Homo sapiens: one gene and its partners. The protein of the gene in region 1 purifies or fractionates together with the protein of each later gene. This does not show direct contact. Each region holds a gene or a part of one and is shown in the gene's direction. Other genes may lie near its edges.

What was found.
Region 2: the proteins of UST (region 1) and GLG1 purify together in Homo sapiens (affinity purification with mass spectrometry; 2 studies listed by BioGRID and IntAct, with this or other methods). This does not show direct contact.
Region 3: the proteins of UST (region 1) and GOLIM4 purify together in Homo sapiens (affinity purification with mass spectrometry; 2 studies listed by BioGRID and IntAct, with this or other methods). This does not show direct contact.
Region 4: the proteins of UST (region 1) and PPT2 purify together in Homo sapiens (affinity purification with mass spectrometry; 2 studies listed by BioGRID and IntAct, with this or other methods). This does not show direct contact.
Region 5: the proteins of UST (region 1) and MAN1A1 purify together in Homo sapiens (affinity purification with mass spectrometry; 2 studies listed by BioGRID and IntAct, with this or other methods). This does not show direct contact.
Region 6: the proteins of UST (region 1) and PON2 purify together in Homo sapiens (affinity purification with mass spectrometry; 2 studies listed by BioGRID and IntAct, with this or other methods). This does not show direct contact.
Region 7: the proteins of UST (region 1) and ERO1B purify together in Homo sapiens (affinity purification with mass spectrometry; one large-scale study listed by BioGRID and IntAct). This does not show direct contact.

What each region holds. Positions count from the first base shown.
Region 1 is NC_000006.12:149,019,312-149,023,561, forward strand, and holds part of UST (uronyl 2-sulfotransferase), read left to right. Parts: intron 1-2,012; coding exon 2,013-2,170; intron 2,171-4,250. UniProt on the Homo sapiens protein: Sulfotransferase that catalyzes the transfer of sulfate to the position 2 of uronyl residues in glycosaminoglycan chains. Has mainly activity toward iduronyl residues in dermatan sulfate, and weaker activity toward glucuronyl residues of chondroitin sulfate.
Region 2 is NC_000016.10:74,495,439-74,499,688, reverse strand, and holds part of GLG1 (Golgi apparatus protein 1 isoform 3 precursor), read left to right. Parts: intron 1-3,044; coding exon 3,045-3,248; intron 3,249-4,250. UniProt on the Homo sapiens protein: Binds fibroblast growth factor and E-selectin (cell-adhesion lectin on endothelial cells mediating the binding of neutrophils).
Region 3 is NC_000003.12:168,085,454-168,089,703, reverse strand, and holds part of GOLIM4 (Golgi integral membrane protein 4), read left to right. Parts: intron 1-4,250. UniProt on the Homo sapiens protein: Plays a role in endosome to Golgi protein trafficking; mediates protein transport along the late endosome-bypass pathway from the early endosome to the Golgi.
Region 4 is NC_000006.12:32,152,284-32,157,243, forward strand, and holds the start of PPT2 (lysosomal thioesterase PPT2 isoform a precursor), read left to right. Parts: upstream 1-1,857; 5' UTR 1,858-2,121; intron 2,122-2,303; coding exon of another isoform or gene 2,304-2,311; coding exon 2,312-2,494; intron 2,495-2,746; coding exon 2,747-2,900; intron 2,901-3,404; coding exon 3,405-3,500; intron 3,501-3,587; coding exon 3,588-3,695; intron 3,696-4,960. UniProt on the Homo sapiens protein: Catalyzes the cleavage of thioester bonds from S-palmitoyl-CoA or S-palmitoyl-N-acetylcysteamine (unbranched structures) but does not have activity against palmitoylcysteine or palmitoylated proteins, branched structures or bulky head groups.
Region 5 is NC_000006.12:119,199,171-119,203,420, reverse strand, and holds part of MAN1A1 (mannosyl-oligosaccharide 1,2-alpha-mannosidase IA), read left to right. Parts: intron 1-2,073; coding exon 2,074-2,167; intron 2,168-4,250. UniProt on the Homo sapiens protein: Involved in the maturation of Asn-linked oligosaccharides. Progressively trim alpha-1,2-linked mannose residues from Man(9)GlcNAc(2) to produce Man(5)GlcNAc(2).
Region 6 is NC_000007.14:95,428,238-95,432,487, reverse strand, and holds part of PON2 (serum paraoxonase/arylesterase 2), read left to right. Parts: intron 1-4,250. UniProt on the Homo sapiens protein: Capable of hydrolyzing lactones and a number of aromatic carboxylic acid esters. Has antioxidant activity. Is not associated with high density lipoprotein.
Region 7 is NC_000001.11:236,222,617-236,226,866, reverse strand, and holds part of ERO1B (ERO1-like protein beta precursor), read left to right. Parts: intron 1-127; coding exon 128-220; intron 221-351; coding exon 352-598; intron 599-1,727; coding exon 1,728-1,797; intron 1,798-4,250.

The sequences.
Region 1 (4,250 bases):
GGGAATCTTTTGTATCCCTAGTCTCTCAACCTTCTGGAATTCAGTTCCTGTTTACTATTAATCTTTCAAGATAATATTTGAGACTCCAAATGTCCTATAAATAATGAAATTTAAAAATCAGGGTCTGTAGAGGCCTCAGGAGACCACCATATAAAGCTTTGTAACTGGAACCAAACCCTTGTTTATACCTAAAACATACTTGTCACTACTCATCCCATGTTGTTTGTCTTTCTCTTTGGATAAAATGACAAAATGTCACATAAAATGTGATCGTGAAGACCAGGAGCGAACACCCAGCCTGCTCCTGTACAGTGACTGACTTAACCAACAACCTGCCCTCGTAGCATGTGTCACTGGGTCTGAGACACTGGAAGCCCACACCTCAATCCCATAGTGGATATACTTAGTAGGCAGAGAAGAAAGTGTTTTATAATGATCACCTGTCAACCTTACTTGAAGGCACAACCTTCTTTAGAGAGTGACTTACTCAGATAGTCAGGACCCCCAGGGTGTGATCTGCCCAGGTCCTGCATCAGCACCCCTGTATACTTGTTAAGAACCCCCACCCAATCATAGTCTCGTGTGTAGCAGCCTCCCCAGATGCTTCTGGCGTAGCTATAGTTGAAATCTACTGTGCTAGACAAATGTCATAGCCTGGAGAAGAAATGGCAGCAACAATGAAGCATTATATTTGCTTGGTAGGAAATCAACCCCTGCTATCAGAAGTGACATTATTCCCCAAAGGAAACATTAACTAGAGGGTCCTTGTGTTTCTGAAAAGGCCAAAGGAGAACTGCTACTTCTACACCGGCAACGCATTCATTGTACCTTTTTGCTTATGCTATGATTTCTGCTTCGTTTTTAGGCGTATTGTTGTTATTCCTGTCTTGTTTCATTTGCCATAACAAAAGAGTTTGCTTATAGTCCAAATTATAGAACTAGGAGTGTTGGTTTTTGACTTCACCATAAGCCCCCTGAGTCCAGGTGGCCTCTCCCCTGCCCCCGACCCTTGCCTCAATAACAAATACCTCCTGGTTAACATTTAGTGCTTCAGGTATTGGGAAGATTTGGGGCTGGATGACTCACTTGCTGATCACAGTGAATATCTTTATAACAGGAAACATGATTTGAACTCCCTAAAGTATTTTTTAAATCGTGTAGTATTTTTCAGATTTTTGAATTTTCTAATCTTGGAGAGGTGACTCATGACACCACACCTTGATACACACACAATGATTTTTATAACTCTTTCATCATATCACCTTGCACAGTCTTTACAACAATGCTTTGAACTAGGTAAGGGTGATTTTTACCATTTTTCAAAAGAGAACCCTGGCTTGCCCAATTCCCCCAAATGATAAATGACAGCCAGGCCTGGAGCCCCACTCCCGGGCTTTTCTCACTCGCCTTAGTGTCAGTTCAGAGAGCTGGCCTACAAATCAGCTCTCTGATTTTTACAAATTAGGCTGTTTTCCTTCTGCAATCTAGACAAACAAAATAAAACAAAACAAAAATCCAAAGATTCCTCTTTAACTCTTCCAAAGAATAAGATGATTAATAGGCATGACCTGACAGCTCTTTTGAGTTCTACATAAATACTATGTCGGTAAGTTTCATATTTCAAAACTCCTAAATTCATTTAATTGGTTCAGTTTGGTCCTCCTATTAAAAAACCATTCTACTCACCCCTTGATTAGTATTTGTTAGAACCTAACTGCTTGTGCCTGCATTCATTCGTCCACAATACTTAGGCAGGGCCTCTGAATTCAAGGCCCTGGGCTTGGCATGAAGCATGGATGAAAGTGACAGAGAAGGAATGGTGAGCAGGGCAGGACACCAGTTGGAAGGACTGGGAAGGCCCTGGATGGGGCTACATCTGGGCTGGTCCTTGAGGGAAACAGGATTTGGACTTATGCAAGTGAAGGTGGGAGGTAGAGGGGGTAAACTCTCAGCATCTTGCTGCATTTCAAATATGAATGTCTGATTTTAAATAAATTTTTATATCCATAAAGGGAGCCTGGTGAATGGGCCCTTGAGAGAGCAAAGCTGAACGTGAATGAAAACTTCCTGCTCGTGGGGATTCTTGAAGAGTTGGAAGATGTGCTGCTGTTACTGGAAAGATTTTTACCTCATTACTTCAAGGGCGTGCTCAGTATCTACAAAGACCCAGGTAACTTCATTTGTAAGCAAGCTCTTCTCCATGAGAGGTCTGTGTCCAGGGCTACTCACCTTGAAAAGGCCTCAGGAAATAAAGGAGTGAAATGATCTCTTCTGATGACAAAGGGCAGTTAGTTCCCTGGGCTTGCAAAGGAAAGTTAGAACCAGGAGCTGCAGATGCCAAAATCTTGAGCTTCATGTTCAGACATAAAAGCACCATGTTCCAAAGGCTTAATGGCTCCATTTCTCCCTATGGAAACTGAAATTGGCAACATTCTCCATCAGCCTTGTCTTGAGCATGTTGCTGGAAACTGAAACTGGCAACATTTTCCATCAGCCTTGTCTTGAGCATGTTGTTGGGGTGGGTACAAATGAATCCGTGTGTGTGCACCTGGACTCCATTGATGGAAACATGCGTGAGTATGAAAGAGCCATCCTTGTGATGAATTCTCTCTGGCCCAACTTCCATTTGATAAAAGCACTCTAGTGTATCAAATCCTGACAGTGGAATAGATAGAGCAGCAAATTGAAAATACAATTATGATTTTATCCTAACAAACCGAGTGGTCCCCAAATAGCAGCAAGAAATAGAATGTGGCAAAGCAATTACAAGGGCTGCCTGTGGTATCATCGTAAGTATAATTACTTTCAGAAATCCATCATTTATTTTTTCATTGTCATTTTATCCAAAGAGAAAGACAAACAACGTTGTTTGTTTTTTCCTATTCTCCTTAATCTACTGCTGTGACAACAAGCCTTGAATACACATTCAGTGATCTGTTTATTGTTCTGTTTTGTTGTCCTGAGATGGAAGAAGGCATTCTGCCCTGTAGAAATAAGCAGCAGATAGGCCCGGTGCGGTGGCTCATGCCTATAATCCCAGCATTTTGGGAGGCCGAGGCAGGTGGATCACCTGACGTCAGGAGTTCGAGACCAGCCTGGCCAACACGGAGAAACCCTGTCTCTACTAAAAATACAACAATTAGCCAGGTGTGTTGGTGGGAGCCTGTAATTCCAGCTACTCGGGAGGCTGAGGCAGGAGAATCGCTTGAACCTGGGAGGTGGAGGTTGCAGTGAGCCAAGATCGCGCCACTGCACTCCAGCCTAGGCGACAAGAGCGAAACTTCATCTCAAAAAAAAGAAAGAAAGAAAGAAGGAAGCAGCAGATGAAAGCTCCCCAAATGCAGTCTGCTGCCTCACATTCCACAGGGTTCCCGAACCCCACCTGCATCACTGGTAGGTCCCAAGGCCCAGGGAAACTGGTCTTTGCCCAGAGAGCCCTGGATCCCGTTGCACAAGGTCAAGGTGGCCCTACCACCATCAGGGACTTGCTGAAGGAAGGTGGATAGTTGGTGGAGGCTGCCTTAGCCTCCCAGCTCTCATTAGAGTTCAAATCCCATTTACCTGAGTGGGGTTGTGAAACTAGGATTTCCTTTGTCTTTTCAACAACAAGCCATTTAAAGAGTTTATAGAATTTTAATGTAAAGAGTTTGATGTGACTGATTTTTATTTCTAGAAGACAACATAAACTCCGTTCTTTGTGCAAGGAGAGGTCTTATCCTAAATTAGACTCCTTTGAAGAAGAAAGGTTTATGTTAATCATTTTCTCCTTTTGGCTTTATCTTGTTCTATGGTGTGTGTGTGTGTGTGTGTGTGTGTGTGTGTGTGTGTGTGTGTGTGTGGTGTGGTGTGGTGTGTGGTGTGTGTGTGTCTAATACACAGTCTGAGATAAAGGGCAAACTAAATCCTGGTGACACATAAGATGAACACTCTCCATAAAAGATATTATGGCTTCCAACTTTGTTACTGTCTGCTCAGTCATTTGCTCTGAGAGAGATCAGCTGCTATGGATGAAGAGAGGTTCACATAGTGAGGAACTGAGACCTCAGACCAAGAGCCACGTGTGTGAGCCATCTTGGGAGCAGCTACTATGACCCCAGTCAAGCCTTCAGATAACTGCAGCCCCAACCAACATGTTAATGGCTGTCTCATGAGAGATCCCAAGCCAGGACCACCCAACTAAGCTACCCCTGAATTTCTGACCCTCAGAGCCAGTGTACGAAATAAATGTATGTGTTTTTATTTTATTAATA
Region 2 (4,250 bases), on another chromosome or scaffold:
TACATTTAGTCACACGTTGCTTATCGATGAGGATACAATGAGAATACCAGGACACGTTCTGAGAAATGTGTTGTTAGGCAAGTTGATCACTGTGTGAGTATCATAGAGTATAGCCTACTACACACCTAGGCTATGTAGTATAGCCTATTGCTCCTAGGCTACAAACCTGTACAGCATGTGGCTATGCTGAAATACTGGAGACATTTATAACACAAGTATAGTATTTGTGTATATAAGTACATATAAACATAGGAAAGGTACAGTAAAAAACACAGTGTTCCATAGCTGAGGGTGGTGGTGTGTGCTTCTAGTCCCAGCTGCTTGGGAGGCTGAGTCAGGAGAATCACTTGAGCCCAGGAGCTTGGGACTGCAGTGAGCTGTGATCCCTCCACTGCACTCCAGCCTGGGCAACAGAGCAAGACCCTGTCTCTTAAATAAATAAAAATGAAAGTTAAACAACAACAACAAACAAGTTTTAGGAGTTTTATAGACTCCACCCACTCACCCAGATTAACCCCATAAATAAATAATGGACTGTTAGCTAGACACTTCATGTTCTACAACTCAAATGAGTTAGTTAACTCCTCTGAGCCTCTGTTCATTCATGTCCGCAGTAGATATCAGAGCTGTGTCCTTTCTTCATATGTGTGTTAGGAGATAACACGAAAGCTTTCATGGAAACACTTGGAAATTAAGGTGCTATAGACAAATCCTTTAATTAAAATAGAAAAAAATACATTCTTTGGTTGATTTGAAATTTTGTCTGAAGTAGATGTTACGCTACTTGGTTTTAGGAATCTTTTTTTTTTTTTTTTTTTTTGCCTGAGACGGAGTTCACTCTTGTTGTCTATGCTGGAGTGCAGTGGCACTAACTCAGCTCACTGCAACCTCCGCCTCCCAGATTCAAGCAATTCTCTCGCCTCAGCTTCCTGAGTAGCTGGGGTTATAGGTACGTGTCACCACACCCACCTAATTTTTGAATTTTTAGTAGAGACAGGGTTTCACCATGTTGGCCAGGCTGGTCTCGAACTCCTGACCTCAGATGATCCACCCGCCTCGGCCTCCCAAAGTGCTGGGATTACAGGCATGAGCCACCACGCCTGGCCAGAATCTTTTTATTATATGCAGATTATTTCATAGATAGGTATTTTATTATAACAAGATTTTAATTGCGTGTGTATAAATGATAGCACTATATATAAAATATATATATAAAATATAATATATATATATATATATACTTTTTTTTTTTTTTGAGACAGAGCCTTGCACTGCACCTCCCAGTCTGGAGTGCAGTGGTGCAATCTCGGCTCCCTGCAACCTCTACCTCCTGGGTTCAAGCGATTCTCCTTCCTCAGCTTCCCGAATAGCTGGGATTACAGGTGCACACCACCACATCCAGCTGATATTTTGTATTTTTAGTAGAGACAGGGTTTCACTGTGTTGGCCAGACTGGTCTTGAACTCTTGACCTCGTGATCCGCCCACCTTGGCCTCCCAAAGTGCTAGGATTACAGGCATGAGCCATCGTGCCGGGCTAATAGCACTATATTTTAAGATGCTTTGGTTTGCTATATTAGTGGTTATACCTTAAATTGTTGAAACATATCTTGTAAGTATAGATTAGGACTCTTGAATAGAAAATATTTAGGGGAACTATCTCATATTTTGCATGAATGAATGTTTGTGGTTGCTATGGGGATGATGAAGTGTACAATTAAAGATAATTGGATGGTTTTTAAGAAAACTCTCAGAAGCGTTTTGTGTAAACAGTGGTAATCTTGTTAAATCCCATTAAGATAAATCCAGAACATCAACGTGAGTATTAAACAACAGATTCTACATATTGGGATGTTTGTGGACACCACAGAGTAGGGAAAGGAGCAAGAAAGTCTCTAACTTCTTAGTGGATTATGTGGTTTGTTGGTTTTTAACTTGACTGAAAGCACTGTTGGCCGGGCGCAGTGGCTCACGCCAGTAATCCCAGCACTTTGGGAGGCCGAGGCGGGCGGATCACGAGGTCAGGAGATCGAGACCATCCTGGCTAACACGGTGAAACCCCGTCTCTATTAAAAACACAAAAAATTAGCCGGGCGTGGTGGCGGGCGCCTGTGGTCCCAGCTACTCAGGAGACTGAGGCAGGAGAATAGAGTGAACCCGGGAGTGGGAGCGTGCAGTGAGCCGAGATAGCGCCACTGCAGTCCAGCCTGGGCGAAAGAGCGAGACTCCGTCTCAAAAAAAAAAAAAAAAAAAAAGCAAGCACTGTTATTTGGGAAATGCCTGGTTTTTAGAGACAAATGAACAGAGATTTCAGCAGTGTAATTTCAGTCTTGACATGAACTATGACCAGAACTTTGAGCCGATGTGGTTTTTTGTGTGTGTGTGTGTGTGTGTGTTTTTTTTACAGAGTTTCTGTCTTGTCGCCCAGGCTGGAGTGCAGTGGCACGATCTCGGCTCACTGCAACCTCCGCCTACTGGGTTCAAGTGATTCTCCTGCCTCAGCCTCCTGAGTAGCTGGGATTACAGGCGCACACCACCATGCCTGGCTAATTTTTTGTATTTTTAGTATTTTTAGTACAGATGGGCCTTCACCATGTTGGCCAGGCTGGTCTCGAACTCCTGACCTCAGGTGATCCACCTGCCTCGGCCTTCCAAAGTGCTGAAATTACAGACATGAGCCACCATGCCTGGCCCTGTTGTGTTTCTTATGAATTTTTGACATTTTAAATTTTTAAAAATTCAGGTTCTTATTTCTAGTGCTAACTAAACTATAATACTTAAACTTTCCAGGATCTCTGTTTCCATTTGTAGCATGCAAGTATTATATTCTAACTGAAGATTATTGAGAGCATTTTCTTTAACTTCCACAATGTGGTTGGTTCTTACTTGATTTCTTGGTAGAACGTTAATAAGTCAACTCTATGATGGGGTTTTATTACTTTGTGTGTGTGTGTGTGTGTGTGTGTGTGTGTGTGTAGCCAAATGTTGTTTATTTGAAACCCATGTGATAAAAGTTTTAAAATATTAATATCCTCGCTATTTTAGGATGCACATTCACAAGGTGAGGTGGTATCATGCTTGGAGAAAGGCCTGGTGAAAGAAGCAGAAGAAAGAGAACCCAAGATTCAAGTTTCTGAACTCTGCAAGAAAGCCATTCTCCGGGTGGCTGAGCTGTCATCGGATGACTTTCACTTAGACCGGCATTTATATTTTGCTTGCCGAGATGATCGGGAGCGTTTTTGTGAAAATGTGAGTCAGCTCAGAAACTGTTCTTTTCTTCCTTTTATTTTTACACATATATAATTTTGTTTTAATTAATTTAATTGTGTTGTTTTTTGAGAGATTGAGTCTTGCTATGTTGCCCAGGCTGGTCACGAACTTCTGACCTGAAGCAGTGCTCCAGCTCAGCCTCCCCAATTTTTGAGACAGGATCTTGCTGTGGTGCCCAGGCTGGAGTGCAGTGGTGTGATCATGGCTCACTGCAGCCTCCAACTTCTGGGTTCAAGCGATTCTTCTGCCTCAGCCTCCCAAGTAGCTAAAACCATAGGCAAGCACCATCTTGCCTGGCCAATTTTTTTAAAAATTTTTTGTAGAGATGGGGCATTGCTGTATTGCCCGGACTGGTCTTGAACCCCTGGCCTGAGGTGATCTCCTCCCTCTGTCTCTGAAAGTACTAGGATTATAGGCACGAGCCACTGTGACTTAAATATTTTTTAATACTCTATTCTAACGTAAAATAAGCCATCAAGAAACCTCACATGTAGAAAAGCCACAGAAATGGAAGAAGAAATTGGTCCCAGTATAGCAGAAAGTGGTAACTGGATGCTCAACCTTGATGACTGAACATTTGGTTAACAGCTGGCTTCTAATGATCTCCACTTAGTATTTTTTCTGCTTTATCTCACTTCTCAATTTCAGTTCTTGGAAGTCTGTTTTATCTATAGGAATTTTATTTTACCCAGGATCTTATTTACATCTATTCAATGGCTAAAACTTTGACGCATTATATATTTATGTGTTTTTGGCTAAGGTGAAGAAAACAGCAGGTGGCTAATCTTTAAAACCAAATCCTTGATTACCACCTGCTGACTCTACAGAACAGCCTTCTAAGTCTTTAAATAGAATGGTCTCTCCATCCTTACAACAAAGTACTGAAAGTAACTTGTGTACACTTCCACTCTGCCTGCTGGTTTGCATTAACAGCTTTAACCATCAGAGCCACTGATGTAAGAGTTTCGTTAACTCTAGCAT
Region 3 (4,250 bases), on another chromosome or scaffold:
GTAGTACCTATGTAGTACTTTTTCTTGGCCTATTAATGTGCATATATATGGTGGTATTGTGCGCAGTGAGGTATAATAGATACAGGCTGAGGCGTCAGAGCACTTGGATTTGATTTTCTGCTATCTTATTTTGCTAGCTGTGTGGTCATGGGCAAGTTATTTAACCTTTCTGTGACTCAATCTATTCATATGTAATAATCAGGATAATAGTGCTTACAAAAGGTTATCTTGAGAATCAATAGTGTTAGCTGATGTGCAGTGCTTAGAAGGGTGTAGCTTGCATTTTGGATGATTGAGGAAACATATACAACAGAGTGGTTCATAGACCTCAGCAATTTAGACCACAAGTGTGGGCAATGTGTGGTAGGTGTACTAATTTTCAAGTGCAGCGTTAGAACTTAAAACATGAACTAGACATTGTCTATTAAATGGACATCTTCACTGAAGTACAACTTAGAGTTAAATGAAGAGACTATCATTTTTGCTTGATCCTGTACCATTTAGAATATGGAACAAAAATACTCTTAAGTTCAGTAATTTTTATTTGTGTGTAAATTCCTTCCCTGAATAAAAGATAAAAGCTTCCAAATACCTTTTGAAGCTCTAATTCAGTGAAGCATTCTTTTGAATATGTATGATTTGCACATAATCTATAATCGATTTCACACGTTGTGCCCACCTTAGTCATCCCTCTAATATGTAACATGCCAACTCTAATGAGAGTACTGGTGTCCAGGTAAATAATTGGTTGCTGTGTAAGAGAATTACTTGTTATCTGGGAGCCTTTAGTTTAAGTTCCAAGTAGATTGGAAGCCTTGCCTTGATTTCTTTTTATTCTTTCTTTTCTTAGGAAGGACAGTTTCCAAAAGGGCTGGGGTACAATACCACATTACTGTGGCTGAAGGAATAAGTGAATTGGAGTTGGGGAAATGAATACTGACTAAATATGGTGTGAATCAAAAAGCAAAGGATTGGAGAGAAACCAGAAGAGGGCAGGGAAAGAAAAGGGGACACATATCACCTGGTGACTTTTCAAAGTACTGAGGAAGAGTTTTGTTCACATCTTTATGTCCTAAAAGAAAAGCAGCAGGAAATGGTGACTGGAGAGCTGGTTGGGGCATCAGATGTGGTTTCAGTGCAACTCAGGCATTTACCAGCAGGGTGACCTTGAGCAGGCAAATAACCTCTCTGAACTTCAGCCTCTTCGTGTTTTAATTTGGGTTAGCAATGTCTAACTTGCAAACTTGTATGGATTAGAAATAGTGCATCTGAAGTGACGAGTATGAGTCCTGGAGAATATTACTACTACCATTTATTAGGTGACCAGAACTACTGTTGTTGAATTAACATTGGGCTTCTTTTTATTTTGCCCAGCCTTTACTACATCTAGTAGGTAAGAGTGTTATTAGTGCTGGCCTAAAAGTGGCTCCTTTCACTATGTGCCCTACTTGGCTGAAACTTTTTGATTAAGATATTCTCACTCTGTCTTTTCTACCCTTTTGAGCCGTTCTTGGGGTGGAAAAAACCTGAAAATGCTTTACATGATAGCAACTAAGAGTTGTTGTTTTTCATTTTGACAGCCAATGGTTCTTCTTTTATCATTAAGGACAAAGTGGTTTTGCTACTTTTGCCAGTAGATGGTTTATGGGTTTTATAGCTTTATTTTGAAGTGAAAGTTATATATCATATAGCTTTATTATAAAAGAAAAATGATAAACTATATTTTCTTTTTAGCCAGTGTTCTTTGGAGTGAATTTTAGTAGAATTTTGAAAACTTATTTGAGAAAATTAAATTATTTTTAATCCATAACATTTATTGAGTACCTACCATGTTCGGGTTCAATGCTAAGCTTATTACATGCATTATGTCATTTAACTGTGACACTAGCACTTTAATCTGAATGAGCAATCTGAGGCTTAGAGAGGTTAATTAACTTGCCAGTGTCAAGATCTAGCCTGATGAAACTAAGCTTAGAAACCTAATGTAACTTTTTCCATAGTGCATCATTGCCCTCAAAATTATTTTAGTGTCTCTCATGACAGTATTAATGGTTTTAAGAAAGTAGGTTAGGTGGGTCATATGGGGATTCATGATAAAATTTAGAATCAGAAATAACGGGTGTACTATTTGATGCAGCATTTCCAGGGTACAAGAAATTTGCTGCTGGTATGAAAGATGATTTTGGTTGATACTAGAGTTGATTTTATGTGGCATGTAGATGTTGCCTGAAATGACAGTGAATCATATAATGAAAAACTTATTTCCTTTCAATGCTTTCCTGACAAGTAATGGAGAAATTCTCAGTCTGATGCTAGAATCTCTCTCCTAGAGAGTTGCTTCTCTGTTTTTCCAAAGAGAATAGACGTTAGGCAGCCAACAACTTGATAGCTAGAATTTGATAATTGTTTTGTTGTATTATTGTATTTAATTTTAAAATTAAATCTATTACCAATCATTAATGCTATGTAAATCAGATTTTTCATTTATAAAGTAGTGGTGTAAAAGTTTCCTGTTTAAAGTTTATTTTAAGGAAAAATAAACTTATTTAAGTGATTATTTGGTGGATTCAAAAAAACTGTACAGGTTTTGCATGAGTGTAGTAAGAACTCGCCTGAGGGGTGCCTGCATGTCTGAAGTTTAGGAATGCATTGACTGATCAAGTTGGATACAGACACTGAATTTTACAGTTAGTTAACTGAATTCTAAGGTGGATAAGTCACTTACCAGGTAGCTTAAGCTAAGCTGAGAGCCCACATACTCTGACTCTCAGTACAAGATAATACCCCTTCACTGCTCTGTGCTGTCTCTGTAGACTAGGACCCTCTTCTCTGTGAGAAGAAATGGGCATTGCTATTTTTAAACAGTGCTGTGTATTTCTGAATGGTATATTTGTGTTCTTTGTTTTTATTGGCCCATGAGTGCATATGCAGAAGACATGTCAGTCATTGTCCTTCACTGATAAGCTTTACTAAATAGGCTCATAGCCCGGAGGGACATGGGCATGAAATAAATTGCTCTCTATAGCCGTATGACATTTTAAAAAATACTGCTTTAACTATTTTTCATACATAAAATGTCACAATATGATAGTGAATAGAAAATTAAGATGTGCTGTCATTCTGAAGGATAGGCATTATAGAACATTGAAATGATATTATTTGCTTTTCTTTGGGAGTGCATGAAGTTAAAAAAATTATAATCATTTTAGGAGAGTCAGACATTTCATTTTCCAGTTCACATCTCATTTAAAATGCCTCCTTTAATTGGAATCTTTGTTACAAACAGAAAAAATAATCTGCAAATCAAGATATTTAGGACAGCTTTGACATTGCTTATGTGTTCTCTTGATAATAGCTATGATGCTGTCAAATAAATATTATAAACAGATTAAAATTTGGCAGTTGATAATTGATTAATTTGGTTTAGAGAAGTTTATCAAGTTTTATATTAGTGAGATTTATTAATAAATAATATTAATATTAGAAATCTATGATGCTTGCCCTTCTGCATTAGTAGCTCAATCTTTTAACAGACAGAAAATGTTTTAAATTATTTTATATTTTATTTAGAGGTTTGGATGCTATAAAACAAGTTAAATTGTATTGATGTCAAACATCACTTTTATTAAAATATGAAAAATAATTTTTTTTACTGTATAGGCGGTCATCACCTCAAAATCTAGATGCCATCCAAATTTGATCCAGGTGTGGGTGAGGCCCCTTAGGTATCCATACAATCTTTAACTATAATTCTTCAAGTATGCTTCCTCTTTATCTGTAGATCTGTGAAACCAGAGTCAAATTACCTGCCCTCAACACAGCCAACATATGGTGGTAGGACAGGCATAAAATACCTAGATATTCCTGTTTAAAAAAAAGGCAGAAATGTGAGAAAAATAGGAGTCACCTGTCAATAGGAATTTGAAGTCTGTTGAGGCAAGTGCTCCTGTAGTAGGTCTCAAAGCCTGGGAATAGTTCTCCAGGGCTCTTGACTGTACCATTTGGTTTCTTGGTTCCACTCTGAGTCATCTTTCCTTTTTCGTGAAAGGTGGCATATGTTTGCAGCTGAGTGGTTTTCTCAGCCTGCTTCCTACCGGTAGAATTTTAAGGACCCGTGGCCTTTTTAAATTTAGTACTGCTTCTACCCCTTTTGGTCCAAATAGGCAGTGGTTCTGCTGATACAATCTTCTCAAAAAGTTTGTGGGTCTCCTGTGAAACTTCTTTGAATTTTCTCCATTAGCCAAAAGCCA
Region 4 (4,960 bases), about 120 Mb from region 1:
GCCTCCAGAGGCAGGTCGTCTCCCCCTCTTAGCTCCCTGCAAGGTGCCAGGGTCTTCTCCCAAATCCTTGGCCCCAGTTTCCTCCTCTTTAGAAGAGATAAATACTTGTGTGTGAGAGAGAATTGTGCAGAGTTCAGAACTGCGATGGTCTGAAAAGTTCCCAGGGTTTGGTGAACCTACCAACCTAGCAGTAAAGAGGGAGGCCCAGGTCTGTAAATCAGGGGGAGCTGGGCCTTGGAGGGAAAAGGGAGAGAGAGTTTGGGCGGTGTGCATACATACCTTCTTCGTCCAGGACTAAGGAGCTGAAGCTCTTTTGGAGGGGGTAGGGGGTATGACTTAACTGCTCATTTCTGGCAGCTCTGTTGGTAATGTGTGCTTGTTCCCCCACTTTCCCTTTGCTTTTGAGGCTGCTTAGAGTCTCTGGGCTGGTCAATGTTCAGATCCATTCCCTAAACCCCCCTACTCCCACCCACCACCTCCCACCAAGACGCATCTCCAGCTCCTGAGTCGACCTGCAGTACAGCGTTATTAGTCTTTTTATTTGCTTATTGCATCTTGGGAGCGCGTGGGTGGGTGAAGGGAGCGAGGATAGGAAGTCTATGGAGATTTACACCAGTTTTTTTTTTTTTTTAAACAAAAACACAGCCAGATAATTATTATTCTTCCCTTACGTCCCCCCAGCCCCCACCTGGGGCAGTCGCTCTCCCGGCTGCGTCCCTTTTCGTCCATGTCCTAGCAGAGACTACAGAGCAGTACAGAGGCTCTCGCTGAAACCAGTCCCAGGCTCCACAGAGTCAGATCACGGCTTCACACCAGTCGTTCTGGTCACTTAGGCGTTCGCGTGAGCGCTCAACCCCTTACCGCCACCTCATCGTCACTCTACACCATTCTGAGCGCAAAAATGTTTTGATTGAGACAAATTTAGACCAAGCAATGACCTTGTAAACAGAGAGAGGGGCTCAGACATGCTGAGAAATCCTTATCTCTAGAGAAACGTCTTTAAATGCTAAGTAAAAGCCCTAGCAAGTAAAAGCCCTGAGGCACTAGGGTGTCGGTTAGGGGTCACAGGCGGAGAGGTGGGGCGCCTGGGGGTTTCGGTAGGGAGCCACCCACAGATAACTCAGACAGCCAGATTCTGGGGGTCGTTCAGGTTGAAAGACTGGTCGAAATTACGCGGGCATGAGTCAGCGCATCCCTACGCGCCCTCCGCCCCTTGAGGGTGGGTCGCTTATAGGGAGGGGAGTAGAGTAGGGCAGGAGAAACTGGGCCAGGCTGCACTTAGCTCAAGGGGCCTCGAGGACTCTCTGCGTCTCTGGAGACAAGGGCACTACACGCACTTCAGAATGAAGAGTTGTAAGTCGCTGACCTGGGGCGGACTGGAGGGTGGGGTGGGGTGGGTGTTGAGGGGCACGCCCGGGCTGGCATCAGCCCTCCAGGCCACCCTGCCACTCACCCAGCACACGGCAAAATGCAGAGGACTACCTTTCCCTGGTCCGCCCCCTGGCCGCCCCTTGGGGAATGCAAACTTCGTGTTCTGCTGCGGAGCCAGACGCCTGTATTGGGAAGTGGGGAGAATCAAGGCGGGGAAATCGGACTTTTGGGTCGCTGGGGGCAACGAAGCCTGGAGAGGCCTTCTTTCCATTCCCAGAATATGTTTGCTGCTTTTTCCTCTCCCCACTGGCCTAAATGGATCGCTCCGCCTGTTTCCTCCCCAGCACCTAGGGCGCAATGGAATATTCCATTGCCCCTCCTGTCCTGGGTCTGTGTTGCGGGGAACGCTCGCGCGGTTGCCAGAGAAAGCCCCGGACGTGACGGATTTGCGCGACCCCAAGCAGCCCGCCCTTCCCCCTCCCATCCGTCATTCCCCTGCGCTCTCTTTCCTCACCCTTCCCCCCGCCACCGTGGGTTCCAGACTTGGGATAAGTAAACAGCGGGTGGAGCGAGGCCTACGGACCCAGGCCAGGTGGGAGTCTGCACTCTTCAAGGGGCCTGGGCTGCTGCTCACGGGTATTAAAGAACTCCGCGTTGTTCATGGCTGAGGCGATGCATTAGGAAGATCCTGGACCTAGAGAACAAGTCCCCCGAACGCTGAGTTGGAGGCGGGACTTCGGGTGCGCGTTGGTGCGTCAACGTGGTGGGGGGGTGTGTTTGTAGGGAGAGGGCTGGAGTAAGTTAAAAGTAGGCTATTTTGTGACACGGACCTGGTGTGGGAGCGAGAGGAGGTGGCTTGATTGCCGGGCGTCTGTTCCGAGGGAGGAGGGTGTTGCCATCTCCCTCACATGCCCTTATCACCCCTTTCTCAGGCGGGAGCATGCTGGGGCTCTGCGGGCAGCGGCTCCCCGCGGCGTGGGTCCTGCTTCTGTTGCCTTTCCTGCCGCTGCTGCTGCTTGCAGCCCCCGCGCCCCACCGCGCGTCCTACAAGCCGGTCATCGTGGTGCATGGGCTCTTCGACAGCTCGTACAGCTTCCGCCACCTGCTGGAATACATCAATGAGGTCTGGCAGGGGACACCTGGGTGCAGGGCGTTAGAGGCGTCTACTGTGGCAGGGGAGGGAGAGCGGGGAACTGAAAGCCACCCCTCTGGGCCTGCCCAGTTCCTCAGGGAGCTGGTGCTGGCGTGGGGGAGAGTTGGGGGACGGGATCCCTGGTTCTAGCAGGGTACAATAGACCTGTGGACGCGGGCCAGGGGGTGGCGTGTGGGAGCTTCTTAGCCTATCCCCGGTGGCTGCATTGCCCCCTTCCCACAGACACACCCCGGGACTGTGGTGACAGTGCTCGATCTCTTCGATGGGAGAGAGAGCTTGCGACCCCTGTGGGAACAGGTGCAAGGGTTCCGAGAGGCTGTGGTCCCCATCATGGCAAAGGCCCCTCAAGGGGTGCATCTCATCTGCTACTCGCAGGGTAGGCGACTCCCCTGCCCCTAACTCCTAAGCCCTATCTGAGGCTTGATCCTTATCTGAGGGACACTTCCTAGCGTCCCTTTTTCTGAACCACATTGCTCCAGGCACAACCCTGGTACCTGAGCCCTTCCTTTCTGACTTCCCTCAGCACCTGGGTCTCATCTCTGTCTTGAATGGGAGGGAGGCTCCCTACACTGCTGCCCTTTTGCTTCCTGTTACCCATGGTTCTTGGACATAAGGGCTAATGGGGCAGGTAAAAACATCCTAGAACTAGAGGCAGGAGGCCCAGCATCTAATTCGGGCTCAGTCACTTATATGATGTGTGACCTTTTGGCACAGGGTGTGCCTGCCTTCTGTAAGCCTCAGTCTCCTTTGTGTACAGTGTGTGTCTGTGTGTGTCTCTGTGTGTGTGTGTGTGTGTGTGTGTGTGTGTGTGGTGGGGGTGGGGGGTGCTGCTGGCTTTGCTGTCCTTAAGTGCCTGCCCAATGTGGTGTTCTGCTTACAGGGGGCCTTGTGTGCCGGGCTCTGCTTTCTGTCATGGATGATCACAACGTGGATTCTTTCATCTCCCTCTCCTCTCCACAGATGGGACAGTATGGAGGTGAGTGGGCACTAGACTCCATAGAATGCCCTGAGTTTTGGGGGAACAGAGGTTTATGGTCACTTAGCATTGCCATTCGCTTGCCAGACACGGACTACTTGAAGTGGCTGTTCCCCACCTCCATGCGGTCTAACCTCTATCGGATCTGCTATAGCCCCTGGGGCCAGGAATTCTCCATCTGCAACTACTGGCATGGTGAGTGGGGATGCTGAACTGGGGCTTCCATGGATCAGGTCAGTTGCTTCCACCTCTGCTACAACCAATAGCAGTGATGACAATAAAGATAACTTACATTTATTGAGTTATTTGAACAGGCTCTGTTCAGAATTTTTTTTTTTTTTGAGACGGAGTCTTGTTCTGTTGCCCAGGCTGGAGTGCAGTGCACCATCTTGGCTCACTGCAACCTCCGCCTCCCAGGTTCAAGTGATCCTCCTGCCTCAGTCCCCCTAGTAGCTGGGATTACAGGCAGGCGCCATCATGCCCGGCTAAGTTTTGTATTTTAAGTAGAGATGGAGTTTCGCCATGTTGGCCAGGCTGGTCTCGAACTCCTGACCTCAGGTGATCCACTCGCCTCGGCCTCCCAAAGTGCTGGGATTACAGGTGTGAACCATTGCACCTGGCCCAGAATGTTTTAAGTGTGTCACCTTATTGCCTTAGAAGGTTTAGTCTGATGTGGGAGTCAGCAAACCTTGTCTATAAAGGGCCAGAGAGTAAATATTTTTGACTTTGTAGGACATATAGTCTGTTTCACAACTCCTCAATTCTGCTGTTGTAGTGTGAAAGCAGCCATGTACCATATGTGAATGAATGTGCCTGTGTTCCAGTAAAACTTCATTTACAAAAACAAGTAGCAGGCTGGATTTGGTCCTTTGGTCACAGTTTGCCAACCTCTAGACCAGACCATGGGGCCAGAATACTTGGGTTTGAATCTTGACCCTATTGGGTGCCTTTGGGCAAGTTACTTAACCATTCTGTTACTCAGTTTTCCTTATCTGTAAAATATTATAGCATGTACTTCACCAGGTGGTTGTAAGGATTAAATAAATAAATGAATGCAATGTACTTTGAATAGTACCTGGCTCATATAGTAGATACTAGATAGAAGTACTTGCTATTGCCAGGTGTGGTGGCTCACACCTGTAATCCCAATATCTTGGCAGGGGGAGGTGGGCGCATCACCTGAGGTCGGGTTCGAGACCAGCCTGGCCAACATGGTGAAACCCCATCTCTACTAAAAATACAAAAAAAATTTAGCTGAATGTGGGCACACGCTTGTAATCCCAGCTACTCAGGATGCTGAGTCAGGAGAATTGCTTGAACCCGGGAGGCAGATGTTGCAGTGAGCGGAGATCCTGCCACTGCACTTCAGCCTGGGTGACGGAGTGAGATTTCATCTAAAAAAAAAAAAGTACTTGTTACTATGTTTACGGTTGTTATCACTACTATTATTATTTTGAGAT
Region 5 (4,250 bases), about 30 Mb from region 1:
CTCCTCACCTCTGGCCTCAGTAGCATTGCAAACCTGCTGTCTCCTCAGGGCCTTTGTACTTGCTCCTCTCTCTGTTCCGAGTGCTCTTCCTCCACATTTCCACGTGGCCTACTCCCTCACTTCTTTAATATTCTGCTCAAACACCTCCGCCTTGCCAGGCCACTCTGACTAACATGGGATAGCCTCTCCACATCACCCTGTCCCGTTAACTCTCAATCAGCTCGGGTTACCATAACAAAAATGCAGCCAGAAACAACCGAAATTTATTTCTTACAGTTCTGGAGGCTGGGAAATCCAAGATCAAACTGCCCATGAGGTAGGTTTTATTCTGAGCCTCTTCCCTGGGCTTGTAGATGACGAGAACTGTCCCAGTGTGTGTTCACATGATGTCTTCTTTGTGCTCTGAGGGAGAGAAGGAGTCACAGAGAGAGAGAGAGAGCTCTTGTGTCTCTCATGAGGGCACTAATCCCATTTAAGGCTCTACCGTCATAACCTAATTACCATCTCCAAATAAATCTCCAAATACAATCACACTGGGAAGTAGGGTTTCAGCATATGAAATTAGGGGTATGCAGTTCAATCCATAGCACCCTTTTATTTTTTTCCACAGTATTTATCATCTCCTGACATACTATACAGTTAGGTGTTACTTAACAGTGTTTATTCAACAGTGGACCACATATGTGACAGTGGTCCTGTAAGTTTATAATGGAGTTGACAAAATTCCTACGGCCTTGTGACATCATAGTTGTCATAATGTCGTAGTGCAATGCGTTACTTACATGTTTGTGGTGGTGATGGCATAAACATACTCTACTCCCAGTCACATAAAAGTATAGCACATATAATTATGTACAGTACATAATATTTGATAATTAAATGACTGCATTACTGATTTATGTACTACTATGGTTTTTATTGTTATTTTAGAATGTACCACTTTTTTTTTAAGTTAGCTCTAGAAGCAAGGTCCTTCAAGAGGTATTCCTCTTCAAGGCATTATCATCACAGGAGTTGACAGCTCCATGCGTGCTACTGCCCCTGAAAGACCTTCCAGTGCGATAAGATGTAGAAGTGGAAGACAGTGATATTGATGGTCCTGTGGAGTCCTAAGCTAATGTGTATATGTGTCTTAGTTTTTAACAAAAAGTTTAAAAAGTTAAACAACTTTAAAAAGAAATTTTAAATAGAAAAAACTTATAAGAATATAAAGAAAGAAAATATTTTGGTACAACTATACAAAGTGTGTTTTAAGCTAATGGTTATTACAAAAGAGTCAAAATTTTTTTAATTAAAAAGTTTATAAAGTAAAATTACAGTAAACTAACGTTAATTTATTATTGAAAGAAAAATACTTTTATAAATGTATTAATAATGGCTAAGTGTACCATGTTTATAAAGTTTACAGTACTATACAGTAACGTCCCAGGCCTTCACATTCACTTATTACTCACTTACTAACTCATCCACTGCAACTTCCAGTCCTGCGAGTTTCATTCATGATAAATGCCCTATACAAAGTGCCCTGTATTTATGTATAGGGTTATAAAATGTATAACCCTATAGAAAGGTATCATTTTTCATCTTTTATAGTGTATTTTTCTGTGTTTAGATACACAAATACTTCAGTACAGTAACATATGCTACACAGGTTTGTAACCTAGAAACAGTAGGCTGTGCCAACTACATTTGTGACAGTGTGCTCTATGATGTTTGTACAAGAATTAAATTGCCTGTGTTTCCCAGCATGTATCCCTGTCATTAAGGGACACATGACTAGACTTATTGATTTATTGTCTGTCCCGTCCCACTAGGATGCACAATTCTAAGAGTGTGGTGACTTTGTTTATCCACTGGCCCCTTGTTCCTAGTATGGCATCTGGCTAATGGTAGATAACTAATCAGTGTGACTATATTCACTTACTGCCATTATGTTTGTAATAATAAGCTAACAGCAGTTATCTTTGTTCTAACTCTGCATCATTTAAGTCAACTTGTATGTTCAAGAAGAAGAAGAATGGCATGAAAATTGTTTTTTAGATTTTCACGGTAACATTTTATTTTCTATTATAGGTAATGAATATTCGAACAGTACTGAACAAACTGGAAAAACCACAAGGCCTTTATCCTAACTATCTGAATCCCAGTAGTGGACAGTGGGGTCAACGTAAGTCAGAAGATTTGCATTATTATAGCTCTTTTTGGTACTGTACTCGTGGAGAGAGAGGAAGCACAAAAGCAGCACAGATTTTGTTGAGAAATGTTTAGAAAAGGAGAAAAGGGCATGGCTCCTTTAATAAACAGGCTTCTGTCATCAGATTGTGTTATTAGGACACTGGATTGTGTATTTTTCATATATAACTCCAAGTGTGATGACATATAAGCACATTTACAGCTATTAATCAGAAAGGGAAGATCTGGCCAGAGTAGTGTGGGGATGTTAATCTGTAACAAGCTGGTCATGTGGATAGAAAGGAAATTCATTCCTTTGTACTAATGACTATGAGGGTTTTATAGAGAGTAGGTAGACCATTCTGCTTCCTAACATTCTGTTTCTGCATGGCTATATAATGAGAGAGGAGCCTGAATTTTTAAGAGTTGGGAAATTGGAAGAGCAAACAGCCTGTTTTTCTCTTCTTAATTTTAAGCTGCCAGATATAAAGGTTTCTTGCCAGTAGAATTACCTTTAGGATGGGAGAAAGTATTGCACAAGAACTTTTGATCCTAGAAGCCTGCACTTAAGACTCTTCAGACGATTTTGAGCAGGGGCATAAAGATTCAGAGTAGTTGAAAGAAATGTTCTCAAGCTGATTTGGAAAAACAGTAGTAGATTAAATAGCTGAAAACAAGTGAAGAATATTGAGATACCCAACTGTAGCAAGAGTACACTGCCTTAAGATTTTACTCTAATTTGGGTTTTTTCTTTATATTTTAATATCATGTTCTTAGATACCTCATTATTACTTTAGAAGTACTTTTCTTAAAGAATAGTTTAATAGGAAAGTATATGCCAAAATCCATATGCTAAAATATGTCTGTAGCTCTGGAAGGCCTAGCTGTTGAAACCTTAGGACTATAATCAAGGTTACCACTTACCTAAGTGTGGTCAACAGATCACTGGAAGTCCTTGAGACCTCTGAGGAGGCCCACAAGGTCAAAAATATTTTTATTATAATACTAGTATAATGATATATAATAACAAGACATATAATACATGTCTTAGTCATATTTACTAAGCCAGTACACAGTATCTTGCACTTAGTGGATGTTTACTTACTTAAATTTTGTGAATACATATGTGCTCTGTATCTCATCTCTCTTTCTGCCTCTGCTTTTAATAGTGGTACTTTGAAAGACTTTCTGCCTTTTCTAATGTGTTGATATTTACACCTACAGTGTTAGGTGATACTGCTGAAGCCTCACTGAGAACAAAGGCGAACAAACACCAAATAGTACTAATATTCATATTTTTTCTTTTTTTTTTCTTTTTTGTGGGACAGGGTCCCACTGTGTCACCCAGGCTGGAGTACAGTGTCATAATCTCAGCTCATTGCAACCTCTGCCTCCTGGGCTCAAGCTGGGCTCAAGCTATCTTCCCACCTCGGCCCCCCGCCCCGAGTAGCTGGGACTACAGGTGCACGATGCCATGCTCAGCCAATTTTTAATTTTTTTTTTTTTTGGTAGAGAGAAGGTCTCATATTTCCCAGGCTGGCCTCAAACTTTTAGGCTTGAGCGATCCCTTTGCCTTGGCCTCCCAAAGTGTTGGGATTACAGGCATGAGCCACCACACCAGCCCCCATTGTATTCTTAATAGCATTTTAAAAAAGGATACTGGTTTCACTTATGAATGTGCTTACTGAAACAGTAAAAAAAAAAAATTAGTGATTCTAATAAATACCAACCTGTGAGTACACACCTTTGTCATGTTCTGTGAGGTGAAATGGAAAATACTCATAAATCACTCCTGCTGAATTATGAAAAATGATAGTTGCATCAAGGAAAAGCTCTTGGGTGTTTTGAGTTGCAAGCTGAGCTAGCCACTTACTGTTTCACAGATTCAACATTTTTACTTGAAAGAACAATTTAAAAAATGATTATTTAGGCTAGGTAGTCAGGAGCCATGTTCTTGAAAATGAGCTTGTCACTTCAAGAAAAAGTCACAGTATTTGTGCCAATGATTATAATCCAAGTTTCTAAATAAAAAATAGAATTTTGGAAAACTTGTACATGCTACCATGAGCTTGACACAA
Region 6 (4,250 bases), on another chromosome or scaffold:
AACTTATTGACAGAATGCCTGATAGTTTATTTACAGGTTTTTGTTTGTTTGTTTTTTGTTTTTCTTTGTTTTTTATTTTGACACAAGGTCTTGCTCTGCCGCCCAAGCCAGAGTACAGTGGTACATCAAAGCTCACTGCAATCTCAAACACCTAGGCACAAGCAGTCCTCCCTCCTCAGCCTCCTGAGTAGCTGGGACTACAGATGCATGCTACCATGCCCAGCTAGTATTTTTATTTCTTGCAGAGACAGGGTCTCACTTTGTTGCCCAGGCTAATCTCAAACTCCCAGCCTCAAGTGATGCTCCTGCCTCAGCCTCCCAAAGTGGTAGGATTATACACATGAGCCACCACCCTCGGCCTACTTTACAATTTGATGCACCTTTTCTTTACGTGACTGTGATGCACTTTAATGGGCAGTGACTTTATAAAATGGTAACTTTATTGGATATGTGGAGCCCCAAATGGGCTGACGTGAGAATGTTGGGGTAGGTGGTGGGTGGCTGGATTTAGCAAAGAAAAATGTAGGCTACCCAGTTAACTTTGAATTTCACATGGATTTTTTTTTTTTTTTTTAGTATAAGCATGAAATACTTATACCATACTTTTAGCATTAAGCGTGGAATTTGGGACATAATTATACTAAAATATCATTCATTGTTTATCTCAAATTAAAATATCACTGGGTACCCTGTATTTTATCATATGTTCGAGTGCCTTCTGTCAGAATTTGGTGACCCTTTGAGTCTGTTTTAAAAAGGAGCATGTTTGGCCGGACACAGTGGCTCACGTCTGTAATCCCAGCACTTTGGGAGGCTGAGGCGGGCAGATCACTAGAGGTCAGGGGTTCAAGACCAGCCTGGCCAACATGGTGAAACCCCGTCTCTAATAAAAATACAAAAATTAGCCAGGTGTGGTGGTGCATCCCTGTAATCCCAGCTACTTGGGAGGCTGAGTCAGGAGAATTGCTTGAACCCCAGAGGTAGAGGTTGCAGTGAGCCAAGATTGAGCCACTGGACTCCAGCCTGGACAACAGAGAAAGACTCCCTCAAAAAAAAAAGAAAAAAAGCATGTTCCCACCTCCCCATAAGGAAAGGCTCTTCAGAGGAAGTTGAAGGAACAGAGGCTTTATGTTTGATTTTTGCTTTAATCTGATGCCTACTGTTTGATTATTCAATATTTAGAGATGGTACTTTGGCAATCAAGTTATTTCTCTCCCCAGGTTGCCCACTTCAATTTTTAGTATAAGGATGTCCCAGAGGGATAAATGCCATCAAAGTTGTCTTTCTTCTTCTGAACTGTAACTGGGATTCCACACCCTCCTTTTCCACCCCTCCCTAGTTGAGCAATAAAGGGGAAAATAACAGTATACAAATATTCCCAGGCCAGTTCCTGGTGTCAAGGTACACAGCCATGGATGAATCATGAGGCTTGAGTGCATCAGAGACCTAAGCGTGGGCAGGAACCCCCAGAGTACCCATGTGAATGTTCTGCTTGCTGCCTCGCACCTTTTATGACAATTCCCACAAGAAGCTATGTGGTCTGTTTCTACTTCTGAAAGAGCAGCCTTTTTCCCTTTTTTTTTTTTTTAAACCACCATCCTTTAAATCATTTATTATGTAACTCTTGTGTGCTGGTCAGTCAGTGTGTCAAAAGTGTAAAAACTTCTTTATTTATTTTTTTAATCTATCTTTTAAAAAATATTTTCTTTCTTTTTTTCTTTTTTCTTCAAGGCAGGTTCTTGCTCTGTCACCCAGGCTGGAGTGCAGCAGCACAATCATAGCTCATTGTAACCCAGAACACCTGGGCTCAAGCAATCCTCCCACCTCAGCCTCCTAAGCAGTGAGGACTATAGGCATGCACCACTACACCTGGCTAATTAAAAAAACATGGCCGGGCACGGTGGCTCATTACTATAATCCCAGCACTTTGGGAGGCTGAGGCGGGTGGATACCTGAGGTCGGGAGTTCAAGACCAGCCTGACCAACATGGTGAAACCCCATCTCTACTAAAAATACAAAATTAGCCAGGCACGGTGGCACATGCCTGTAATCCCAGCTACTCAGGAGGCTGAGGCAGGAGAATCACTTGAACCCGGGAGGCGGAGGTTGCAGTGAGCCATTGCACTCCAGCCTGGCAACAGAGCGAGACTCTGTCTCAAAAAAAAAAAAACAAAAAAATTTTTTTGTAGAGATGGGGGTCTTGCTGTGTTGCCCAGGCTGATCTCAAACTTCTAGCCATAAGTGATCCTACCGCATCAACTTCCCAAAGCACTGGGATTATGGGTATGAGCTACTGAGCCCTGCCAAATTTCTTTATATTAAACCAAAACGTACATTTACTGATATTTGGAAAGAAAGCTCTTTTACTTTTATGCCTTCATCCAGTCTTCATAGATATCTTCCCTTTTACATTATAACTGTAAATACTGAGGTTAGAGAGGTTAACTAGTTAGTTCAACAGAATAATATAAATATTGAATAATATAATTAATGAATAATTAGTGCTGAACCTGTCGCCTCAGCCAGGTCTCCTGATTCCAAATACAGTTTGCCCCAGCTCCCCACAGTCTTCTAGCTTCTCTGCCAGTGGAGCAAATTTTCCCTAGGTTTACAGGCCTAAGCACAGATTCTTAGTTACTTAGTGCAAGTATTGCCAGAGCCCAAGGGGTGAATTCCAAAGGGTTTTTACAAGGCTATACATAAAAGATAAAGCCCTGGCTTGTATATCACTTGCACATAGGAGATAAAGCCCCAGCAGTTGTATGTAAATTTCAAAAGCAGAGAAGTATGGCACAAAGAAACTCCTGATAGTAACACTGTGTTCCCACTTTGCTTAGGGGCATATTGGCACCGTAGCATGGTACACCCTTACTGCTACCTGCCATGAGGCCAGATAATAGCTAGCAGCCCCTGGTCTCATTCTACTCTGGATGGGTACTGCTGTTTCCTGAATGAAAGACACTGAGATTGATTTCATGCTAATGACTGTTGGTTAAGAGTTCATGCTTTCTATTCACAATAGCAAAGACTTGGAACCAACCCAAATGTCCGTCAATGATAGACTGGATTAAGAAAACGTGGCACATATACACCATGGAATACTATGCAGCCATAAAAAAGGATGAGTTCATGTCCTTTGTAGGGACATGGATGAAGCTGGAAACCGTCATTCTTAGCAAACTATTGGAAGGACAGAAAACCAAACACCACATGTTCTCACTTATAGGTGGGAATTGAACAATGAGAACACTTGGATACAGGAAGGGGAACATCACACACCGGGGCCTCTTGTGGGGTAGGGGGAGGGGGGAGGGATAGCATTAGGAGATATACCTAATGTAAATGACGAGTTAATGGGTGCAGCAGACCAACATGGCACATGTATACATATGTAACAAACCTGCACGTTGTGCACATGTACCCTAGAACTTAAAGTATAAAAAAAAAAAAAAGTTCATGCTTTGTGGACAGGTAGCCTGAGTTCATTCATAGCTCTACTATTTACCTGAAACCTTGGACTAATTATTTCACTTTTCTGTGCCCCAGTGTTGTAATCTGTAGGATGGGGTACTGCCTGCTCCACAGTGGGACTATGAGAATGCTTAAAATAATGCCAAGCGCACAGTCAGCTCAATAAATGTCATCTATGTAGACAATGAAATTCAAGCATAATTCCTTAAACCTTTGTGCCATACATCCCTTTGGCAGTCTGGTAAAGCCTTCATTCCTTCTCAGCATCATGTTTTTAAATGAGTAAAATAAAATATATAGGATTACACAGGAAACCAATTAAATACTGCTACCAAGCTATTTAAAAATCTATGATATAATATGCTTTTTAAATTAAACCCTTAAATGGATCTAGAGGTAGGTAAATGTCTAACAGCAGATATTTTGAAGTTGCAATGAATGTAAATGGCACTTTGAGCTATCTACAACTGAAATGCGATAGAAAAGTATCTATAATTTCTATTAGTGACAGTCACAAATACTACTAATAGTATTGTGGTTTGTTGCTTATACTCATCATCAAAGGAAATACTCAATTTGAGTTAAAGGTTTAAATAAAGATGTATTTTTCCCCCATCCAAGTTCATGGATCCCTGAATTCTACCCATGGATTCCTTGGTCACTGGACTCCATAGGGGTCACTTGGGGAATGATTGTGACACCAATGAAGGAAGCCAGCGGATACTGTTTGCTGTATTATACCTACCATAGGCTCGTGATGAGGAAATAATAAAATAAAT
Region 7 (4,250 bases), on another chromosome or scaffold:
TTATATTATTCCTTGATTTATTTTAATGTTCTTCAATCAAAAATAAGCCTACATACTGAACCTCCTTGAGTCAATATTTCTGATATCTAAATAGGTGTAATTTCTTTTTCAATATTTTTCTGAATAGGTTTGTGTCTGGAGAAAAGAGTCTTCTATAAGCTTATATCGGGACTTCATGCTAGCATCAATTTACATCTATGCGCAAATTATCTTTTGGAAGGTAATCATATTTTTAAGTCGAGATTTTGCCTTCTATTAGTGTAAAAATTATTGGAGAGAATACATATTCTTTAGAGCAGAAAAAAAATCCTGTTTACTAAAACAATGTAATGTATTTCTCTTTCTCTTTAGAAACCTGGGGTAAGCCCAGTTGGGGACCTAATATTAAAGAATTCAAACACCGCTTTGACCCTGTGGAAACCAAGGGAGAAGGTCCAAGAAGGCTCAAGAATCTTTACTTTTTATACTTGATTGAGCTTCGAGCTTTGTCAAAGGTGGCTCCATATTTTGAGCGCTCAATTGTCGATCTTTACACTGGAAATGCAGAAGAAGATGCTGACACAAAAACTCTTCTACTGAATATCTTTCAAGATACAAAGTAAGAATTGACTATCCGTGATTTGAAATTCTCCTCTCTGTATTCAAATGAGGTAGCACTTAAAGTACACAAAAACTGACTCCTAAAAGTTAACCGAGGGGAGATGTAGAACAGAAAAGGAAAGTGATCAATAGAACAACAGAATTTAAAAATATTTCTGAAAATGTTGATGAAAAAGCATTAATAAGGCTTTCTTTTGCAGAAATTTTCACACTTGAGAATAGTGCTTTAAAATATCACTAAATTTTATGTAGTATCAAAATTTAGTGCTACTTTAATGGTCTTTCTACCAATTTTGTATTCTTCTAGTCACTTTATTTACTTACTTATTTTTGAGACAGAGGCTTGCTCTGTTGCCCAGGCTGGAGTGCAATGGCACAATCTTGGCTCACTGCAGCCTCTGCCTCCCAGGTTCAAGCAATTCTTGTGCCTCAGCCTTCTAAGTAACTGAGATTACAGGTGTGTGCCATCACACCCAGCTAATTTTTGTATTTTTAGTAGAGATAGGGTTTCACCATGTTGGACAGGCTGGTCTCAAGCTCCTGGCCTCAAGTGATGCACCCTCCTCTGCCTCCCAAAGTGCTGGGATTAGAGGCATGGGCCATCGCGCCTGGCCTCTAGTCACTATATTTAAATTTAGATGATAATATACATGTGTTTGCATTGGGATGGATATGTAAGGAAACATTAGCCTTATCTTCTAGAATATAACCTTTTAAACAAAACGCTTGGTCAAGAAAACTTGAGTTAACTGGTTTTTAAAATAGCCTGGAAGAGAAAGATTAAAAAGTGTTTAAAGTAAATTATGTATTAAATTTTTAAAGAATATTAAGGGAATATTGCCTATTTTTTACATAGATTGTTTTCAGTTAATTTTTTAGATTACCTGTGTCATTTATTTAAAACATTACAGTCTTACTAAATTTAACAGCCATCTGTGTCTTGCTTTAGTCTTTTATGAAATAGTTTATGTGTGAACTGTTTGTCACTTTTCTACATTACCAAAACTTACATCGGAGTAAATAATGAATTTTAAATATTCATAAGGATAGAAAATTTTATCAGGTTTCTGATACAGAGTACGTGGATTTTTCATGTGTAACTTAATCCAATACTATCATTTTATCAGGTCCTTTCCCATGCACTTTGATGAGAAATCCATGTTTGCAGGTGACAAAAAAGGGGCCAAGTCACTAAAGGTAAAAAGTTCTCGATTGGGACACGGGGTTGGGAGCAGTTTGCTGGTTATGCTTTAATGCTGTGCATCCAAACTGTTTTCTTTCCCAGTTTTCCAGCTTCTTGTCAGAGTTGGTCTGATTGGATTTTAATACAAATGGTACAAAAAGCCTTTCCATATTTCTCAGTTCCATTGACCAACTGCTTAGTGAATCATTGGTCATTAGTATGTCCTATAACACCTTTATAAATGTCTTTTTAAAAGATACTAGTTGAGGGAAAGTTTTCTTAGTTTAAAAGCAGTGTATATTGTCGTTTTGATGCAGCTTTCAGAATACCATGAGCTTTTAGCCACTTTGAGGACAATAAATATTTTTCTAAAGTTTATTTTATGGAATGTTACGGTTTTTGAAACATATATTATGTTTTTGTCCCTTTGGACTAACTTAAAAGGTTAAAACTACCTGTTAACATGTGACATCAGAAGGAGAATATGTTTTGGGAACATTACCAAACTTCATGTTAGGTGTTCTTTATTTTCATTTGCTTAAAGTACATTAAGAAACAAATTGTACCCTTAAAATGTTCATAAAAGTATTTGAAATTGGCATTTTTTTTTTTTTTACTTTTAAATTTATTTTTTGAGATGGGGTCTCGCTATGTTGCCCAGGCTGGTCTCAAACTCCTGGCCCTGAGCTGTCTTCCCACCTCAGCCTCCCAAGTACCTAGGATTACAGGCACAAGCCACCATACCTGGCCACAAATAATCTTTGAGTACAACTTCATAGTCTTTTATATGTACTTCTGAAATCCGGGTAGTTTCAAAAACTGAAACATTTTCTTATGTTTAGTGCAAGGTAATTTTTTAGCAAAACCTGACCTAAACTGGTGTAAGAATATAGCAGATATTCGTAGTTTTGTGGGGTTGTTTTCAAATTCTGCTTGGTATGAATTTTTTATATTTTGCTACAGAAACATTAACGGATTTGACTGCAGGGTGTTTCCTCACACTCTGGTGAGATGTTTCATAATATACAGTACATGTACTGTATTTCTAAAATTTAAAAACTTCTGAATTCTAAAACACATTTGACCCCAAGATGTTTTAGATGTGGATGTACTATAGGAACCAATAAATCAATACTGAGTGATTCTCCTTTGGCGAGACTTTCTTGGTATTTCTGAAATAAGTAATTTAGTCACAACTATATTTTAGTGTTGGAAGGTTGTTTTATTTTACAGTTGTTTTAGAGGTATATTGCCATTTTGGTATTTTGTATGTTAATTCATTTTTATAATGCTTCCTGTTTTCTAAGTATCAACACATATGTTCTACTTTTAATCTTCAGAATGATCTTGTGTAATAGGGCAACTATAATTATGTATGTTTTTGTAGATGAGGAAAGTGAGACTAAGCAAAGCCTAAGTGTCTCACAGCAAGCTTTTAACTACACAATGCTGGGATTTTGTTTGCTGTTTGTCAAGAATGTATGAAGGAGAACCTATGTCCCTTTTCCATCTGCTGCAAAGAACTTACATTACATGAGAATATGACCAGCACAGGAGTTTTTGTGTTCTATTTATATTGTCTTTCTTTGCCAAGGTATTGATTCCTTTCAACCCTCTGGCAGCTGGTCAGGGCTTGTGGTAGCCAGAGTTTTCAGGCTACTTGCCTCCCGCTTCATGCAATAAAATATTTCCCTCAATGCAATAAAATGATTTTTATTTTCTGCAGTTGCCATGTGAAACAAATGAGGAAATTTTCTCTTAACCAATCTTATCCGCAGATAAAGTGAGACCAACCTTAAAGGCATATTGCACACAAATGCTTATAGGCAGAAGAATTTCCCCAGTGTAGGAAACTTCTCTTTTTTTTTTTTTTTTTTTTTTGAGACAGAGTTTCACTCTAGTTGCCCAGGCTGGAGTGCAGTGGTGCGATCTTGGCTCACTGCAACCTCCACCTCCCGGGTTCAAGCTATTCTTCTTCCTCAGCCTCCCAAGTAGCTGGGATTACAGGCATGCACCACCACACCTGGCAGATTTTGTATTTTTAGTAGACATGAGGTTTCACTATGTTGTTTAGGCTGGTCTCAAACTTATGACCTCAAGTGATCACACCTTGGTCTCCCAAAGTGCTGGGATTACAGGCGTGAGCCACCCTGCCTGACCAGTGTGGGAAACTATTACAGCAAAATAGAGGGATCCAGTAAGCATCTCCATAACAACTGCATTAGCAAATGTAGAGGACTGTGGGACCATATGTGTCACACAGGCCTGTTATCATTCATATTGATTGAGCAACCATGACAAACATAGTGTGGTACTAAGGAGTGATACAAAAATTGATCATTGTTCTAGGACTAGCTTTCTGATATAGGCTTACACAAAGCAAAGGATCAAAAATAAGTGAAACATAAACTAGACATATTTATTGTTGGTTGTATGTAGATAACAAATGGAAGCAGCAATTAAGTTC